Linked DNA regions of Homo sapiens. The protein of the gene in region 2 purifies or fractionates together with the protein of the main gene of each other region. This does not show direct contact. Each region holds a gene or a part of one and is shown on either strand. Other genes may lie near its edges.

Region 1 (3,519 bases), on a different chromosome or scaffold from region 2:
AAAAAAAAAAAAAAAAAAAAGTCAGTAATTAGTCAAAGAGAGAGGGACCCCACAGGATTTGGAGCAAGGTTCTATAGCAAAAGTATCCAAAATAAGGAAGCTTATTTTGGAATGCTCTGAGGATGAATTTTTGGGCAAGCAGAAACTGCTTACTACAATGAAGAAGGGATGGACTCTTCTTTCAAATAGGCTTCTCCCAAGAGTAAAAACTTGCTATTTCTTCTGAAACAGAACTGCCTTTAGAGAGGACAGTGGGTCAGCCTCACAGGAGGGAGGGTAACTAAGGTGAAAGCGGCAGAAACCCCCACACACAAAGGCCTTTTTCATCAGGAAATCCAGAAGAGCGAGTTTGTGGCAGAGTTCACTACAAAGCTCTCAGGTTGCAAGAAATGGGCCCCTCAGTTATAATTAACATTCGTGGGTGGCATAACACTGGCAGACCCATGGGGACATCTGAGTGTCTGAAAATGATGTCATGCCCACAAAGGTGCTCAAAAAATATGCTGAATTAAAAATCTTGGACTAACACCTCCAAAGTCTCTTGTCAGAAAGCAATTGAGCCATATTCCTTAAGAGGTCAGAAGAGGCAGAAAGCATCCATCCAGTTGTGAAGTTAACTAAATGGAAAATGCAATGCAAAATCCAGGGACACCTTGCAGAACATTGTAGGGCCCAGTAGTTAGCAAAGTTCACTTGCAGAAACTGAGGTGCCATCCCCACCATCATCATATTGTTTGGAGATGGAAACAGGCACACTCCACAAGGATACCCTTATAAATCAGCTCTAGTCTTTTTCGTGTGTTCAGAGAATGTAATTATAGTTAAAGAATTGGCATGGAGTACTGGCCCTTTCATAGACCTAACTCTCCTCCTTTCTGAGTGGGGACATAAAATCAGAAAAGGAACAGTTGGAATGCTGGCTTGGGTGGGGCAAGTAGTCTTTCTAGCTGATTTTTATCTAAACAGCACACTAGTGTGCTCGGCACTCTTTCCTGCTCCAACAGGAAGAAAGGACACACACTCACTGCCCTCCGAAGAGGAAAACTGGTTTTCCACAAGAGGTCAGGAAGTGCAACCAGCCAGGTCACCAAAAATAGGGATGTTTCCTACCAGCCTGCCTTTCTTAACAACAGTTTCGACTATGCTCCCTTCTTTAGCCTCCTTTTGAGTGAATGCAATATAAAACTGGAGACCGCTTCCAGTCTTGGTTACCCACGTACTTCTGAAAAGGCTTCTTGTTGTTTTACTGCAGACAGCACCCACAATGTTCCAGGGACCCCCTGCATCTTTCTGCTAACAGGCTTTCTGGAAAATTACGAAGTGTTTTAAACTTAGAGCTTGGCTCCTGGATCTGTAAAGAGTCCCGTAGAGTGCTGCTGAGGTTCATGGAAGCCGAGTGGGCACAGCCTGGGTGGGGGAGCTCTCCCTGTTACCTTCCACAGCAGCTCACACTCGCGTTCCTCCAGGGCTTTCTTATGCCTCGCCGTCACGGCTTTGACCTCCGACTGCACAACCTTCGCCTTCATCTCCACCTGTTCCGCCACCGTCTGGGCCTGCTCGATGCTCAGCTGGAAAACCAAAAAGAAACAACTTCGAGGCATTAGAAGGACTGTCATTCCTTATACAAAACATTTGAATCTGCTCTGTCAGACTTGAAAAGCTGACACCCTGGGTTCCCAGACCACTTGATTCACTCCCTTGGAAGGAAAACAGGCACTTAGGGAGAGACTGGCATCTGTTTGACATGTAACTAAAGGAGTTGCTGGCAAGAGCTGGATTTCTTTGCATGAGAAATAGCACCTACACAGTGAATGTCAGAACTATTAAGAGATACTCTGACACAGCAAAACCAGTGTAGCTGGGTGACAGATGAAAACTGGGAATGAGGATCAGATGTAAAATGTACAACTCCAGCCACACAAGCAACTTCCCCAGACTTCCTGGCCTCACCCTCTGCCTAGGCGAAACCCCGCAGGCCAGGAACATCCCTTACGTGAGGGTGTGCGACAGGGTAGTGGCTAATCCATCCTGCTTTTGTCAAGGCACTGGCAACACAGCTCACCCCAGCCAGAACGAACACCAAGTGCACACTGGGAATATCCCCCGATCTACCTAAGGAGCTGTGCCCCGTGGTCAGAGACCATCTACACGTCATCACACACGCCACCCTGTACCAGCCGTAGTAAATCAGCCAGTTTAATCAGACGTATTATTGTTAATTAATCCAGACAGAAGGCATGGTGTTATCATTAATATTACATGGTTGAGATACCGAGCTATTAAATCAGGGATTCCAAAGTGATTGCTCTTGGTACAACAGGTTTCGGGTAGGTGATTCAATCAGGAGGGTGTCAGGGAAGCCCAAACTGGAGCCTGGTATGGGCTTAGGAATCAGAGTGACCAATCATCCAGTTTGCTCTGTACTGAGGGGTTTCTGGGATGTGGGACTTTCAATGCTAAAACTGGGACAGTCCGGGGCAAACCAGGCCAGTCATCCCTGGAGTCAGGTAACCCAGGTTCCAATCCTGGGTTAGTTTAGGGCCTCCTACTAGTTGTAAGGCCTTGGACAAGCTCCTGGTCCTCTCCAACCTTGGTAAAGGTAGATGTGAGGGAAATGCATGGGTAGAGCTGAGCTCAGCACCTGGCACAGAGTAAAACACTGTTATTAATAGTTCTCAGCTGATAAAACACCTGGGACAAAAGTTCAGCCATTGTGTCCCGTCAGGCCACTTAGCTCCTATCATAAAATTTACCATTAGTCACACTTAGTATGTTCAGTGTTGTATAATCACCACCACTATCTAGCTACAGAACATTTTCACCACCCAAAAAGCAAAGGCCATTACCATTAAGGAGTCATTTCCACTTCCCTCCTTCTACCCCATGGCGATCACTAATCTACTGTCTCTCTACAGATCTGTCTGTCCTGGGCATTTCTTTTTCTTTCTTTTTTTTTTTTTTCAAATAGAGATGGGGGAATCTTGTCACATTGCCTAGGCTGGTCTCGAACTCCTGGGCTCAAGTGATCTGCCCACCTAGGCCTCCAAAAGTGCTGGCATTATAGGCATGAGCCACTGCGCCTGGCCTGTTCTGGGTATTTCATATAGATGGCATCATCATACAATACACGATCTACCTTATTTTTATGAATATTCTTCCTGCCCAACAGTTTGACTTGCTCTGGATGACAGCTGACACATTCATGGCATGCAAGACACGCTCAAAGGTGCAGCCCCAAAAACACCCATGGAAGCCAGGCACAGAGGCTAATGCCTGTAATCCCAGCACTTTGGGAGGCCGAGGCAGGCAAATCACTTGGGCTCAGGAGTTTAAGACCAGCCTGGCCAACATGGTGAAACCTGGTCTTTATTTAAACAAAACAAAACAAAAAAGCACACCACCCGTGACTCCAGTGGTTAGGTGCCACACTGCATTCTCTGCCTAAGAGGATCCTGTGTGACCTAAGGATCCACTGAGCTGATTCACAGGGGAACTGGGTAGATCCAGAGGGCTCACAGG
Region 2 (3,519 bases):
ATTCTGGCCAGAATTCTGAAAGCTGGGTGAGGGAAGAAGACTGGTGATCTTAACATAAATAGGTAAACACTCGGTTTTGAGTGTGGTACCCTGGTTTTCAACTGTATTCCCAGTGTGCATAGCCTTCTCCAGAAAGCAAGCTTCCAGCCTTCTGCAAGGATGAAGGAAAAGAGATCACAGAGTACAGACAGAGGGAAAGATATCTGGGTATCAAATTCCTAAAATTTCAACCAGTTCTCCCGTTTTGCCCCCCTGTCCCCTCTTCACCATGGGTCCCATGTTTTCCCAGCTTTGAGCTCTCAGGGAATTCTATAAACTGACTTGTTTCTGGGCTTTTCTATTACTTAGAGATCAGCTTTTTAAGTCTACTAAGTCAACGCCTTCTAAAATTTTGGTGTGGGTTTCTCTTCTCCCTTGTGGATTTATGGCTTTTTTAAAAAAGAATTCCCTTATTCTCATTTTAGTATATGTTTGGCAAGAGGCAGAGTTAAATGCTAGTAATATGCCACTTGTTTAACTGAAATCTTAGATAATTTAGCTTTTCAATAAATGTATTTATCTTCATAAATCAAACACGGTGTATCACAGACGAAACGTCAAAATGATGACAAAGTAGTTAAAAGACAAAATTGGAAGGCAAACCTAACAGAATAAAGAAATAAATGGTTGAAAGTTTGGGGGGAGCGGGTAACCTGTTTTTGCTATACAAATTTTGTTAAAAGCCAAATTTTCAAGAGAGAAAAATCAAAACCCCCTGACTTTGTACTTTTTGAGGAGTTAAAGAAACCAAGTGATTTATCCAAGACAAGTGGGCTTTTTAGTGGTGAAGATAAATTTCACATTTAAATCTGGTGAGTCCTTAACATATCATGGAGTAAAAACCAAAACCAAAGGAGACACAGGCTCTGAGAAAGGTGGGTATTTCTAGCAAAAGAAATGCTGTCAGCAGGAGGGCCGGAGGTGATCAAGTTCCAGCATTAAATTATGTACATAAAAACAGTAGTGCTTAAGCTCAAAGGCAGGGTCATCTATTTTTTGAGACAGAGACGGTCTCCCTCTGTCGCCCAGGCTGTAGTGCTGTGGCACAATCTCAGTTCACTGCAACCTCTACCTCCTAGAATCAAGCGATCCTCCTACCTCAGCCTCCCAAGTAGCTAGGACTACAGGTACACGACACCATGCCTGGCTAAATTTTTTTTTTTTTTTTTTTTTAGTAGAGATGAGGTTTTGTCATGTTGCCCAGGCTGGTCTCAGACTCCTGTGGTCAAGCAATCCTCCTGCTTCAGTCTCCCAAAGGGCTGGGATTACAGGCAGGAGCCACTGCGCTCGGCCAAAGACAGGGTAACATAAACTTTACCCTAAATCCACTGTGCATGCAGAAAGGGGTTGACTGACGAATCCTTGTTTTTCTGAGACTCGACATGCAGACAGTTTGATGCTAGAGGAGCTCCCTTTCCTAGGCTTTGTCATATTTCTTTCCCATTCACTGACTGACCTTCCTTGTTTTCAGCCCTCTATTTGCACTGGTACCCTTTAACTCAGTAGTTCTCCGCTATGGTATTAGTTGTCAGGAGTGTCCACACTTAAGTACCTTAAGTTCATGAGTCATTTTTTAAGCAAACAAAAAAGAGTAGTTATAGCACTTACTTTCTTTTGAGCATGAATAGAGAAGAAAAGGACAGAAGTATAGCAAAGAAATTAAAAATCTCTTAGTATTAGAGGTACTAAAAAAATCTAGATATTAGCAAGGGAGAATGGAGTATATGTCAGTATCATCCATGAGTGTCCCAGTAGAAAAACAACTTACTAATCTAACCAATTTCACTTTTGCTGATTCCATTCATCTCTACCTTCAGATTTCTTTTTATTTTCTTCACTACCAAAACCACTCCTGTGCTACTCTTTGACCAACAATTTTATTATGATTATTATTGCAACGTCAATTAAAGCAGGAGCAAGTCTTAGAACTCCTTCCACAATACCTTACCAACAATTAGACCTATAAAATTTAAAAGGTTGGGAGAATACTCAATAGCAGTGCACCTGTAAGGTCTCAGCTGTGCTAATCATAGGAAAATGAATAATTTCTGGAGAACAACTCTTATTTTTTCAAGCATTTTTAAATATAACAGCTTACATACTAAAGCTATATAAATCTTTAGTTACTTAAATGTCTAAAATTACTACTCTATGTATCACTCAGACATTCAATAGAAATGATAAAGTCAAATACAGGCTTTCCTTCTTGACTTCTTGGCAGCTGGAAGAATAATCCATTGCTATACTCTAATACAGACCATATACCTACTCTTCTTCCTGATGCCTAGTGATTCTGTAGCAGGTCATGATCTAACAGTTTGCTCTCAGTTCATGGAACGGCAGCAATGATATGATGCTCAGTCTTTGGTCTGTCTAAATGTGCCCATTCTTCAAAACTCAGCATTACTCCACCCTTTCCCATCATCTCTCTTTGATTTTCTGGTCTGAAGTCCTCCGGGTTGTACACTTCCCATTTATTATCCCTTTGTCTTAGTAATTCATTTGGAGATAACATAAAAGAACTGAGATAAGATATAGGGTTCTATATCACGATATATAGAACTTTATCCAGCAAATGTTCAGGTACTATTTTTTTTGGCATATTGGTTTAGGATTTAGACATTGTGTAGCTTCTGTTAAAGTAAAGCAGAGAAGGTTAAGGAAATTTTTCTGGGAGATTTTTAAAACCTTTTTACCTTTGGAATTTTAACCTTACTCAGATGGGTTCATAAGGCAATGTTTTATTTCTGGAAGATAGCTACATACATTTCACAGAATGTTACTAGGACAGTAGAATTTAGCTTCTCTACAGGCAGGACTTTTCCACTTCTGAATTTCAATGTGGCAGTTAATTTGGTTTTTTTGTTTGGTAAACAGGTTCTTTGCTGTGTCACCCAGGCAGCCTCGAACTCCTGGCCTCAAGCGAACCTCCTGCCTCAGCCTCCCAAAGTGCTAGGACTTATAGGCATCAAGCACAGCATCTGGCCCCTAAGGGTCCTATCAGGTGAGAGGAAAAACACATACACATTCACAACAAAAGGATGAGGGACCACCAGACTCTAAGACCGTCACACAGTGGACAGTCAGCAATACTACAGTATGCAACACAGCTCTCAACTCCAGGAAACACAATTCATTTTGTGTTGTATGTGAACAGCATCCCCTGGAGTTGTGCAAAGCAGTGATCCTGGTACACAAAGTTAACAAGGTGAGATGTTCCACTAAAGGGAGTTTTGTGAAATGAGAGGACAAAACACTAGCCACATTTAGATTCAGCCCTTATTAGCACCTTGAAGTACCAGAGAAGTTCCAAACTGCATAAACCAGCATATCCTGGAGTTTGGTTGTGCCTCTTTCCCCCAGGAAATCCCTATTAATATTTTTTGGAACCAGCATTCTAAAACACAATTTAGAAAACACTGAGCTACTTTATAAAAGGCCTTCAGAGTCAAGTTGTATTTTGATAAAGAGAAAAATAAA
Region 3 (3,519 bases), on a different chromosome or scaffold from region 2:
CGAAGGCAAATACTTTTTTGAAGGCCATAAAATAGTAACATCAGGAAGAAGATGCTTCTGGTTACTATCACATGAATAAATCCAGATCTGTATCATCACTAAAGAAAATACTAAATGGCTAAAGACCAGAATCATTTATAAATAAATGCAATTCATTTCTAACTTGGGCTGTACCCCCAACATCTGTTTCTAAATTAGTTTTCCTGATAACAGATTTTATTTTCCCATAATAATTCATGTCAACTGTCGTAGACAGGTCCCCAGCTGCCTCTTCATCATCATGAGGTGGGGAGGCTGTGTGTTTAGGCTGCAGCTTAACACAGCTTACATAGGAGCCCCAAGACCTGCCTGGAGTGCCGAGCAGGCTCAAGTGTAGAGCAGGAGTAAGTAAGCAGCACACTCCTCACTGCCACTTCTTTACTCCCCATTCCTCTGGAGTAGTTCTGTGAAGCTTCCCCTGCTGAGGGACAGGTAGGTAGGGGTACCAAGGCAGCAGGAAGGAAGGTTTTATTTTCTTCACCTCCCTCCATGGGACACTGCAGTGAGACGTAAAGCAGAAAACAGGGACAGAGAGAAAGATCAGGGGAAGCCTTACAAGGAAAAGAGTCAGCTAATGGCTGCAATGAGAAGGAGGCCATTCCCACAAGTAACAGATAGGAAGAGTTCTCGGAACATTTTTACAAAGAAGGTCCATACAGGTAGGAAATGTCTATGGACATCAAATATTTTAAGTAAAAGTAGTATGAATTCCACGTTCTTACCTGTTTGCATATGCACAAATGTTATCTACTAGTGGAAGATTCTTCAAAGCTGCCTCTACTTTCCCAAGAGAAACATATTCCCCTGCCTGTAGTTTTACAAGGTCCTTTTTACGATCTGCAAAACAAAGAAAGGTGGAGAGGGGAAAACAATGAGTAATAATATTAGTAACATTTAATACATATATAAATACTGGCCATTCTCTAAGTAATTTGCTATCAAATTATTTAAAACTTTGCAAAATTAAGCATTAATGGTTATGCTGAAATTAAAAGCACATATTAAAATTAGGCCCTAATTTTTGTACTGCTAAATACATGCTTTTTTTTTTTTTTTTTTTTTTTTGAGACGGAGTCTCGCTCTGTCGCCCAGGCTGGACTGCGGACTGCAGTGGCGCAATCTCGGCTCACTGCAAGCTCCGCTTCCCGGGTTCACGCCATTCTCCTGCCTCAGCCTCCCGAGTAGCTGGGACTACAGGCGCCCGCCACCGCGCCCGGCTAATTTTTTGTATTTTTAGTAGAGACGGGGTTTCACCTTGTTAGCCAGGATGGTCTCGATCTCCTGACCTCATGATCCACCCGCCTCGGCCTCCCAAAGTGCTGGGATTACAGGCGTGAGCCACCGCGCCCGGCCCATGCTTTTAAAAGAAAAACAGGCCAGGTCCAGTGGCTCATGTCTGTAATCCCAGCACTTCGGGAGGCCGAGGCGGGCACATCACTTGAGGTCAGGAGTTCGAGACCAGCCTGGCCAACATGGTGAAACCCCGACTCTACTAAAAATACGAAAACTAGCTGGGCGTGGTGGTGCACACCTGTAATCCCAGCTACTCAGGAGGCTGAGGCAGGAGAATTGCGTGAACCCAGGAGACAGAGGTTGCAGTGAGCTGAGATGGTGCCACTGCACTCCAGCCTGGGCGACAGAGCAAGACTACATCTCAAAAAAAGAAAGAAAGAAAAACAATTAACTTCTACTTAATGGACTCCATTAGCAGGGCTTCAAGTATGTTCTTCTGAACAGGTTTATTTCTGGTATCCATTAGTACCAGGCAGGTGAAGAAGATATTCAATGCCATCTGCAAGTTCACAACCTATCTGGAGACATGCATAATGCAAAAACGTATTACTTCAATACATTGGTACTACAATGGTAGCGCTAAGTGTTAAGACTCTCCAACCTGGGGATTTGGAAAAAATTCTTGCAAGTGAGGCCTGAGCTGAGGGTTGGATGGTTGGTTGGTTTTGAGATTTTGAGACAGGGTCTCACTCTGTTGCTCATACTGGAGTGCAGTGGCACAATCACGGCCTCCTGGGCTCCTGTGATACTCCCACCTCAGCCTCCCGAGTAGCTGGGATTACAGGCCTGAGTCACTATGCTCAGCTGCTTGAGCCGAGTCCTAAGGGAAAAGTGAGAGGTCAGGTGCAACAACACTGGCAAAAGCCAGAAGAACATCAGCTCTAATTTCAGCTGCATCAAGGAGGAGGAGGAAAACAACTGACGATGAAGGTGAAGAGGGGAACAATGTTAACAGGGGCACCCTGAACTGAGCTTCTAGGAGACATTAAATGGTTGTGGCCAGTAAGATCCATGTTTAGTAATTACATGGTGGCAGTGAGAGGGTGTGTTTAAGGGGGTAAACATGGCAACAGAGAAATTATTGGGAGAGGGTGGCAGAAGGTACAGGCCTGACCAATGATCAAGTAAGAGAGACAAAGAGAGAAGAGTATGATTTTGAGACATAGCTCATAAAATAAACTAGTGGGATATAAAATAGGCATGGGAAGCTGACTGAAGAGAACAGTCTTGAGTCTCCTCCCAGGTTTCTAGTTAGCAAGACAGGGATAGAAATGCCATTAACTTTTTTTTTTTTTTTAGACAGAGTCTTGCTCTGTTGCCCAGGTTGGAGTGCAGTGTCGCGATCTCCGCTTGCTGCAAGCTCTGCCTCCCGGGTTCATGCCATTCTCCTGCCTCGGCCTCCCAAGTAGCTGGGATTACAGGTGCCCGACAAAGACACCACACACGGCTAACTGAAATGCCATTAACTTTTAAAAAAAAAGAACCTAAAAGGAGAAGCAGAATAAGGTATTTTTCAACCCATATGAGTCATAGTACTTGAGCTGCCTGGCTTTCCTCTATTCTCCTGGGCAGGGCAAGGCAAGGGTGCAGTTCAGACTGTGAGAGCTCCATCCACTAATCTCTAGATGTCAGAAACACAGGCAGGAAACAATGACTGAAGGTTATCTAAGAGTAATTTAAAATACCACTGCTGCTGAACCATCTTTGAGAACTCATAACATGTCAGGCCTCATAAATTCCACAGTCCGTAATATTTTATATTCCAGGAGTGATGCAACAACCCAAACTAAGATTACATAAAGATTTATATTATTCAGCGCCTCCTCTAAATATATTGTGCTTCTTGTGTAAACTATTTCAGAAACATTCATTTTCAAAAAAATATTAGATGACTTACCAATAATCTTTAAGCATCCATCGGGTTCAAACTCTCCAATATCCCCAGTACAGAGCCACCTTTGTCCATTTTCATCTTCAAAGAAATCAGCTTTTGTTTTTGCTTCATTTTTGTAGTACCCCATTGTCACACTTTGGCCCCCAATAAGAATTTCACCCCTGGGGTGTGGCTTATCAGTATTAAAGTATCCACCTAATAAAATAATAATTGAGTTAATAGTTGAGTTAAATACAACACATGAAAATTTGAAACTACTAGTTTCTAAACAGTCATCTTATTTTAATCCAATT
Region 4 (3,519 bases), on a different chromosome or scaffold from region 2:
TACAAATTTCAATCCGGCACAGCTGTCAGAACAGGAATGTCCAAACTGCTCTAGCTGAAGACAGACCAAAAAAATTAGCAGAATGGAATGGTCTTTTGTAACTGATAGATATCTTGGTTCACTAAAGTAGTAGTACTGCAAACACTAAGAAAAATGGGGAACCAAGAGACCTATGCTTCCCAAGAACCATACACATATTTTGTTTGTTTGTTTTGAGACAGAGTCTCACACTGTCGCCTAGGCTGGAGTGCAGTGGCACAATATTGGCTCACTGCAACCTCTGCCTGCCAGGTTCAAGCAATTCTCCTGCCTCAGCCTCCCAAGTAGCTGGGATTACAGGTGTGTGCCACCATGCCTGGCTAAATTTTGTATTTTCAGTAGAGACAGGGTGACACCATGTTAGCCAAGCTGGTCTCAAACTCCTGACCTCAAGTGATCGGCCCGCCTCAGCCTCCCTATGTGCTGGGATTACAGGCGTGAGCCACCGCGCCCAGCCCCAGGTACCATACACATTTAAAAAACCATATTTTGATTTGGAGATACCCTTGTTTTGAGACACGGCCCTACTCATTCAATTCTGGCAAACCTATACCAAATAACTTTGCCCCAGCTTCGTAGTTTCAACTTCCATGCCTGTACAACAGTCCTTCAGAAGCCCAGAGCTTTAGAAAACCTTAGAGTCAGGGACTCCTATACAGAGGAAGGTCATTTGTCCAAACTTCTGCTTATTATAAGTATAAGCATGTCTCAGGGATACCTGGCAGAAAGTCACCCCTCCTCTATTTCAATACTACCAGTGATGGGGACACCACCTCAATATACGAACTACATTTGCCAGCAACTGGCTCCATTTTCCTAACATTCTAGTCCTTTGAAAAGTTTTTCCTTGTACTGAACTGAAATGGGCTTCCTAACTTTCAACTTCCTATGCTATCACTCCCCAACTCAGTCTCACCAGATAACCTCATCTCCAGCTTCACAGAGAAAACAGAGGAATTTCTTGAGCTACCTGCTTCCTCTCCCCACCACAAATTTATCTGCATAAGCCCCTATCTGTAACTCCTCTCCCTCCAGACATGAGGGCAGGGATGTCCCTCCTCCAGACTAAGACAATCCTGTGTTCAGTCTTTTTAGGGACCTTTGTTCCTTCACTGTTTGTTAAGGAAGCCACTCTTCTAGGACAGACAACACATCAGGAGTGAGGTGGCTATATGGTAATAGCCATCAAAAGATGGCCCTATAGAATACAAGCTCCATGAAGGCGGGGATTTCAGTGCGTCTTGTTCACACACTATCCCCAGGGCTGAGAACAGAGCCCGACACATTGGTGCTCAATAAGTACTTGTTGAGTTAATGAATGAATGAAGTCACACTTCAAACCACCAGTTTTTTCCCTCTCCACTGGCCCTTTCACTTCAGCATAAAAATACGCTCAAGGCACTCCCATTCTATAACTAAAACCATAAAAAACCTCCTTTGGTCCTACCAGTCTCCACCAGCTACCAGCCTTGCTCCCCTTCAGAGGAAGAATCCAGGAAGAGCAGTCAACCACCGTTTGCTTCTATACTTCATTTTAAGTTTACTACTTAACCCACAAAATTTTAAAAATTTTTTTTATTTTTATTTTTTGAGACAGGGTCTTGCTGTCACCCAGGTTGGAGTGCAGTGGTAAGGATCTCAGCTCACCGCAACCTCCACCTCCCAGGTTCAAGAGATTCTCCTGCCTCAGACTCCTGAGTGGCTGGGACTACAGGCACGCACCACCACGTCTGGCTAACTTGTGTATTTTTTTGGTAGAGACAGGGTTTCACTACGTTGGCCAGACTGGTCTCGAACTCCTGACCTCAAACAATCCGCCTGCCTCGGCCTCCCAAAGTGCTGGGATTACAGGCGTGAGCCACCCCACCTGGCCGCCCACACCTTCCAAGCCCACCATGCCACTGAAACGACTCCCCAAACTCAAAAGGCAATTTCCATCCCTTAATTTTATCTAACTTCCCAAAGCATTTGATACTGGCAACTCCCTCCTTGAAAAGCCCCTGCTTTGGTCTTCATGCAGCCACGGCTCCTGGTTTTCCTTGCAATCCCTTTGGCTGCTTCTCCTCTGTTTCTTTCCCTTCCTGTCCTTTAAAGCAGTGGTAGCCAAACTTTTTAGATTTCAACCCTGTCAGCCCAAAATTGGAAAGTAGCCCTTCTTTCTTCTCTCTGTCCCTCTCATCCTCTCCATGTAAAGTATATACTTCTACTATAGTAATAGATTATGTATTTGATTTGTGCTATATTACAAAGCATACAAAAATAAAAGTTTTTAAAAGGATGAGATACCTGTGTAGTATTTTTCCCAATCTAATAATGAGAAAACATCAGATAAACCCAAATTGAGGGACAGTCTACAAAATACCTGACCATTATTATTCAAAAAGAGATAAGATAAAAATAGGCCAGGCATGATGGCTCACACCTGTAATCCCAGCACTTTGGGAGGCCAAGACAGGCGGATCACTTGAGGCCAAGAGTTCAAGACCAGCCTGGCCATAATGGCGAAACCTCATCTCTACTAAAAATACAAAAATGAGGCCAGGTGTGGTGGCTCATGCCTGTAATCCCAGCACTTTCAGAGGCTGAGGCAGGCAGATCATTTGAGGTCAGGAGTTTGAGACCAGTCTGGTGAACATAGTGAAACCCCGTCTCTACCAAAAAAATACACAAGTTAGACAGATGTGGTGGTGCATGCCTGTAGTCCCAGCTACTCAAGAGGCAGAGCACCTGAGGTTGGGAGTTCAAGACCAGCCTGACCAACATGGAGAAACCCCGTCTCCACTAAAAAAATACAAAATTAGCCAGGCATGGTGGTGCATGCCTGTAATCCTAGCTACTCGGGAGACTGAGGCAGGAGAATCACTTGAACCCGGAAGGTGGAGCTTGCAGTGAGCCAAGATCATGCCATTGCATTCCAGCCTGGGCAACAAGAGTAGTCCCAGCTACTTGGGAGGCTGAGGGACAAGAATCACTTGAACCCCAGAGGCGGAGGTTGTAGTGAGCCGAGATCGTGCCACTGCACTTCAGCCTGGGTGACAGAGCAAGACTCTGTCTCAAAAAAGGAAAAAAAAAAAAAAAAAGATAGAGGCTGGGTGCGATGGCTCACACCTGCGTGTAATCCCAGCACTTTGGGAGGCTGAGGAGGAGGATCACTTGAGCCCAAGAGTTTGAGACCTCATCTCTACAAAAACAAACAAAAAATTAGCTGGGTATGGTGGCATGCGCCTGTGGTCCCAGCTACTAGGGAGGCTGAGGTGGGAGAATCGCTTGAGCCTGGGTGGTCGAGGCTGCAGTGAGCTGTGATCACACCAGTGCACTCCAGCCTGGGTGACGGAGTGAGACCCTGTCTCAAAAACAAAAACAAAAAGGATATAAATGGAATTTCTAGTACATTCATCTGGCATCCAAATGGATCACCTAGCATACTCCACTTTGGAGATCTGAGGGCTCCATTCTTGACTCTTACTGCTTTCCTATTCT
Region 5 (3,519 bases), on a different chromosome or scaffold from region 2:
TTCCAAAAAACTAAGGGAAGAGGGAGACATAAAATCATTATTATTGTTCTTAAATGTTAAAAATAAGAGTTTGAAGATTATATGTGTCTAAATTATTATAGCGTGACTAAATGCTTTCTCTGGTGTCACAGGTAGTTAAAATTAAAAAAAACAAGAGTTTGGATATTAGGAATAAGAAATACAAAGAATTAGAAGAGATCATAAAACATATTTACTGTGGGCCTATTTTATACAGGCACCGTTTAGTATTTCCTGGTATTTTTTCTCACTTATTTTTTTATTTTTTAGAGACATGGTCTCACTCTGTCACAGGCTGGAATGCAGTGGCATGATCATAGCTCACTGCAGCCTCAAACTGCTGGAACCAACAATTCTCCCAGTTCAGCCTCCCAGGTAGATGGAACCACAGGTGTACATCATCATGTCTGGCCAGTTTTTTAAATTTTTTGTGGAATCGGGGGTCTTGCTATGTTGCCAGGCTAGTCTTGAACTCTTCAGTCTCTCAAAGTGCTGGGATTAAAGGTGTGAGCCACTGCACCAAGCCGTCATTTAATTTTTAGAATTAAACTATTACAGGTTATTTTTCATGAGAGAAGGAGGAAAAAACTAAGGATACAATACACAAATGACATCTTCAAACTACAAGAAGGCCAAATGATATTTCTATTAACCAAGATTTCATGACAGTAGACCAAAGAATAATGGGGAAGTAACGTACTAAAATCCTATTGTCAAACTCACAAGAATTGGAATTTTATCAGTCATTATTACAGTATCTGCCCTGGCAGTGGTGATGACACTTTAACAATGTTAACTTTAATTTTTTTCCTTTAATTTAGAAGTTACTTTTCATTTTATGTTTAAGTAAGCATATGCTGTTAATAGGTATATGTTAGAACATATTTGAGAGTCATTAAAACAAAATAAACTAATTTAACATAGGATTAGCTTTTCATGGTAAGGAACAGATTAAGAATTCAAACCTGGATCTGTGTAAATCCATTTCTCTGATTCCCAATTGATACCTAAGATGGGGTTTCACAGAACCAGAATGGGTTTCCATCCTCTTTCAAAATATGTGGAGAATATGAGAGATTTACACATACACTGAAGAAAAAGATGGCCGGCAGATAAACCCAAAGGGTATTACAAAGATATTCAATATACTAAAAATAAAAGTTAAAACCATAAAAGCCCTTGAGCAATAAGCTTACATATATCTTCTCTGTCTCATTAAAATCAAGAGAAAACCACAAAGGCAAACCACAGAAATCCACACATTATCAGAGGAGCAAAAGGTCATTATTTGTGTAACAATTTGAAACAAATAGTTTGAAGTCCTTAAATTATAATATCAACATCACATTTTCCATCATAATCTACAAATATATGGTTCTTCATTATCCTTAACCCTAGTTTCTTCACTCCAGGTTTCCCCAGATCACATAATAAGGCAATAGTGAGAAAATGGTAGCTTTTTCAGAGAGCTTTCAGTGGCAACGAAGAGTTTTGCCAAATGCCTTAGGAAGTTAAAAAGAATATTCCAAATTTAGGCTCTTCAGGCTCTAGGCTCATAAGGTTATTACATAAATGGGGTATGAACTCCTAATATTATGTGTAAACAATTATTTACCTTAGAAACTTTTACATAGCACACAAAAAATATGAACTCTTTATTTACTTATGTTACCATTCATCAATTAATGTTCAGAGTATCTGGCACACTGCAAGCACTCAGTAAGTATTTCTGAATAAATATGTGAATAAAGGAATAATAAAAAATGCATGAAAAACTAATGAAGTAGATTATGGTGTTAAATGACTATGTATTTATTGCAGGCTTCAAGGAAAGGCGAACATATTTAAAGACAGACTCAGACAGTGTATGCAAATACTAACAGCCTCCAACATGTACAAAAAATACATACAGAAAGTTGCCCTGGTAAGACTTGTGGGGCATCTTTTAGAGCTCCAGGACTTGTTGGAGAAATAACAGAAATGGAAGGCCTTTCCATCTTCTGAGATTCAAAGGAACTTGAACCTAAAATGAGAAAAAAAAGTAAGTAATATTTGTAAGTGTAGGAAATATTTTTAATAAAATGTTAAATGCATCCTTTATTTGTATAAAACCATAATTACTATCACTGATAACAGAACCTACTTTTAATGGGATAGATTGTCTTTAGTTGTCTATTTAAAAAATATTAAGAATGATATAACGAAGTATTATGCTTATTTCAACTGGAAAGAATTGATCTACATTTCTGGAGTGCATGGTATTGCACAGGCTCTTGCATGACTTCACATATGGGTAAAGGTCTGCTTCAGAGATAAGGAAGATAGTGCCTGTTAACACTAATTATCTTGGCTAATGGATCATCTATTATAAACTGTCCTTACTGAGAAATTAAAATGAATGCATACATAATATAATTTATAAGCCACATCTAAGCCAAGACTTTGCCACTGTTTTAAAATCAGATATACCATCTATCTTAGGTTTTTTTTTTTTTTTTTTTTGAGACAGAGTTTCGCTCTTGTTGCCCAGGCTGGAGTGCAATGGCATGATCTTGGCTCACCGCAACCTCCACCTCGCAGGTTCAAGCAATTCTTCTGCCTCAGCCTCCTGAGTAGCTGGGATTACAGGCATGCACCAACACGTCCGGCTAATTTTGTATTTTTAGTAGAGACGGGGTTTCTCCATGTTGAGGCTGGTCTCGAACTCCTGACCTCAGGTGATCCGCCCACCTCGGCCTCCCCATCTATCTTAGTTTTGATCTTATAAATGAGTATCCTGAACCTCTGAAAATGCTGCTTCAAGTAATTCACCACTAGTGATTTGTTTCAACTTCACATGGAGGAGGCTGGGTCTCCTCTCAGCCACTTGGTGGAGTTCTTCACTGTTCCAAGTATACCCTGACACAGAGAGCAATACAGAGTGTTTATAGAAGGCTATTGATCCAGCAAGTACAACCTTGAACTCACCACCATTCAAACTTAGCCAATGCTTCATTGAGAAATACTGTTTATGAAGCATTGCCTGAGTATGTGCAATCCGCACATTTTTTTCTATAAGTACAAATTAATTCTCATGTCATCCTTTTGTGCCCTCCGAAAACATTTAGTGATAAAAAACAGCTATATAAAATTGTTACTATGTGTCTTTTCCCAGGTATATTTAAAATACATTTTCCTTAAGTCTCAGAACAGGAACACTGTTATTTCTAATAATGCTTGTTTGTAATATTATGGCAATCAGTGTATTTTTTAATCATATCAATAATATAAATTATGCAATTAGTCCCACTTCCCTCTTTGTATTGGTCACCAGAAAGCTCAAAGCCAAAACTGGGTCCACCTCTAGCAGAACATGATGGTATGCATTTTATATGATAACCTAGTGTCTGTTTCCTTGTTTATCCTACTTTCATATTTTCTTCTCCCTTCTAATCACTATCACTGGTTTTCCCCTAAATCACCTTTTATTTTCTATTTCTTTAACTTGGGTTCTGTAAGAAC

The links.
Region 1: the proteins of ATP2B1 (region 2) and TRIM71 purify together in Homo sapiens (affinity purification with mass spectrometry; one large-scale study listed by BioGRID and IntAct). This does not show direct contact.
Region 3: the proteins of ATP2B1 (region 2) and ACSL3 purify together in Homo sapiens (affinity purification with mass spectrometry; one large-scale study listed by BioGRID and IntAct). This does not show direct contact.
Region 4: the proteins of ATP2B1 (region 2) and ATP6AP2 purify together in Homo sapiens (co-immunoprecipitation; one large-scale study listed by IntAct). This does not show direct contact.
Region 5: the proteins of ATP2B1 (region 2) and RIMS1 purify together in Homo sapiens (co-immunoprecipitation; one large-scale study listed by IntAct). This does not show direct contact.

Annotation. Positions count from the first base shown.
Region 1 is NC_000003.12:32,883,983-32,887,501, reverse strand, and holds part of TRIM71 (E3 ubiquitin-protein ligase TRIM71), read right to left. Parts: intron 1,569-3,519; coding exon 1,434-1,568; intron 1-1,433.
Region 2 is NC_000012.12:89,698,822-89,702,340, forward strand, and holds part of ATP2B1 (plasma membrane calcium-transporting ATPase 1), read right to left. Parts: intron 1-3,519. UniProt on the Homo sapiens protein: Catalyzes the hydrolysis of ATP coupled with the transport of calcium from the cytoplasm to the extracellular space thereby maintaining intracellular calcium homeostasis.
Region 3 is NC_000002.12:222,930,523-222,934,041, reverse strand, and holds part of ACSL3 (fatty acid CoA ligase Acsl3), read right to left. Parts: intron 3,422-3,519; coding exon 3,230-3,421; intron 877-3,229; coding exon 762-876; intron 1-761. UniProt on the Homo sapiens protein: Acyl-CoA synthetases (ACSL) activates long-chain fatty acids for both synthesis of cellular lipids, and degradation via beta-oxidation.
Region 4 is NC_000023.11:40,583,965-40,587,483, reverse strand, and holds part of ATP6AP2 (renin receptor precursor), read right to left. Parts: intron 1-3,519. UniProt on the Homo sapiens protein: Multifunctional protein which functions as a renin, prorenin cellular receptor and is involved in the assembly of the lysosomal proton-transporting V-type ATPase (V-ATPase) and the acidification of the endo-lysosomal system.
Region 5 is NC_000006.12:72,246,537-72,250,055, reverse strand, and holds part of RIMS1 (regulating synaptic membrane exocytosis protein 1), read right to left. Parts: intron 2,042-3,519; coding exon 1,929-2,041; intron 1-1,928. UniProt on the Homo sapiens protein: Rab effector involved in exocytosis. May act as scaffold protein that regulates neurotransmitter release at the active zone.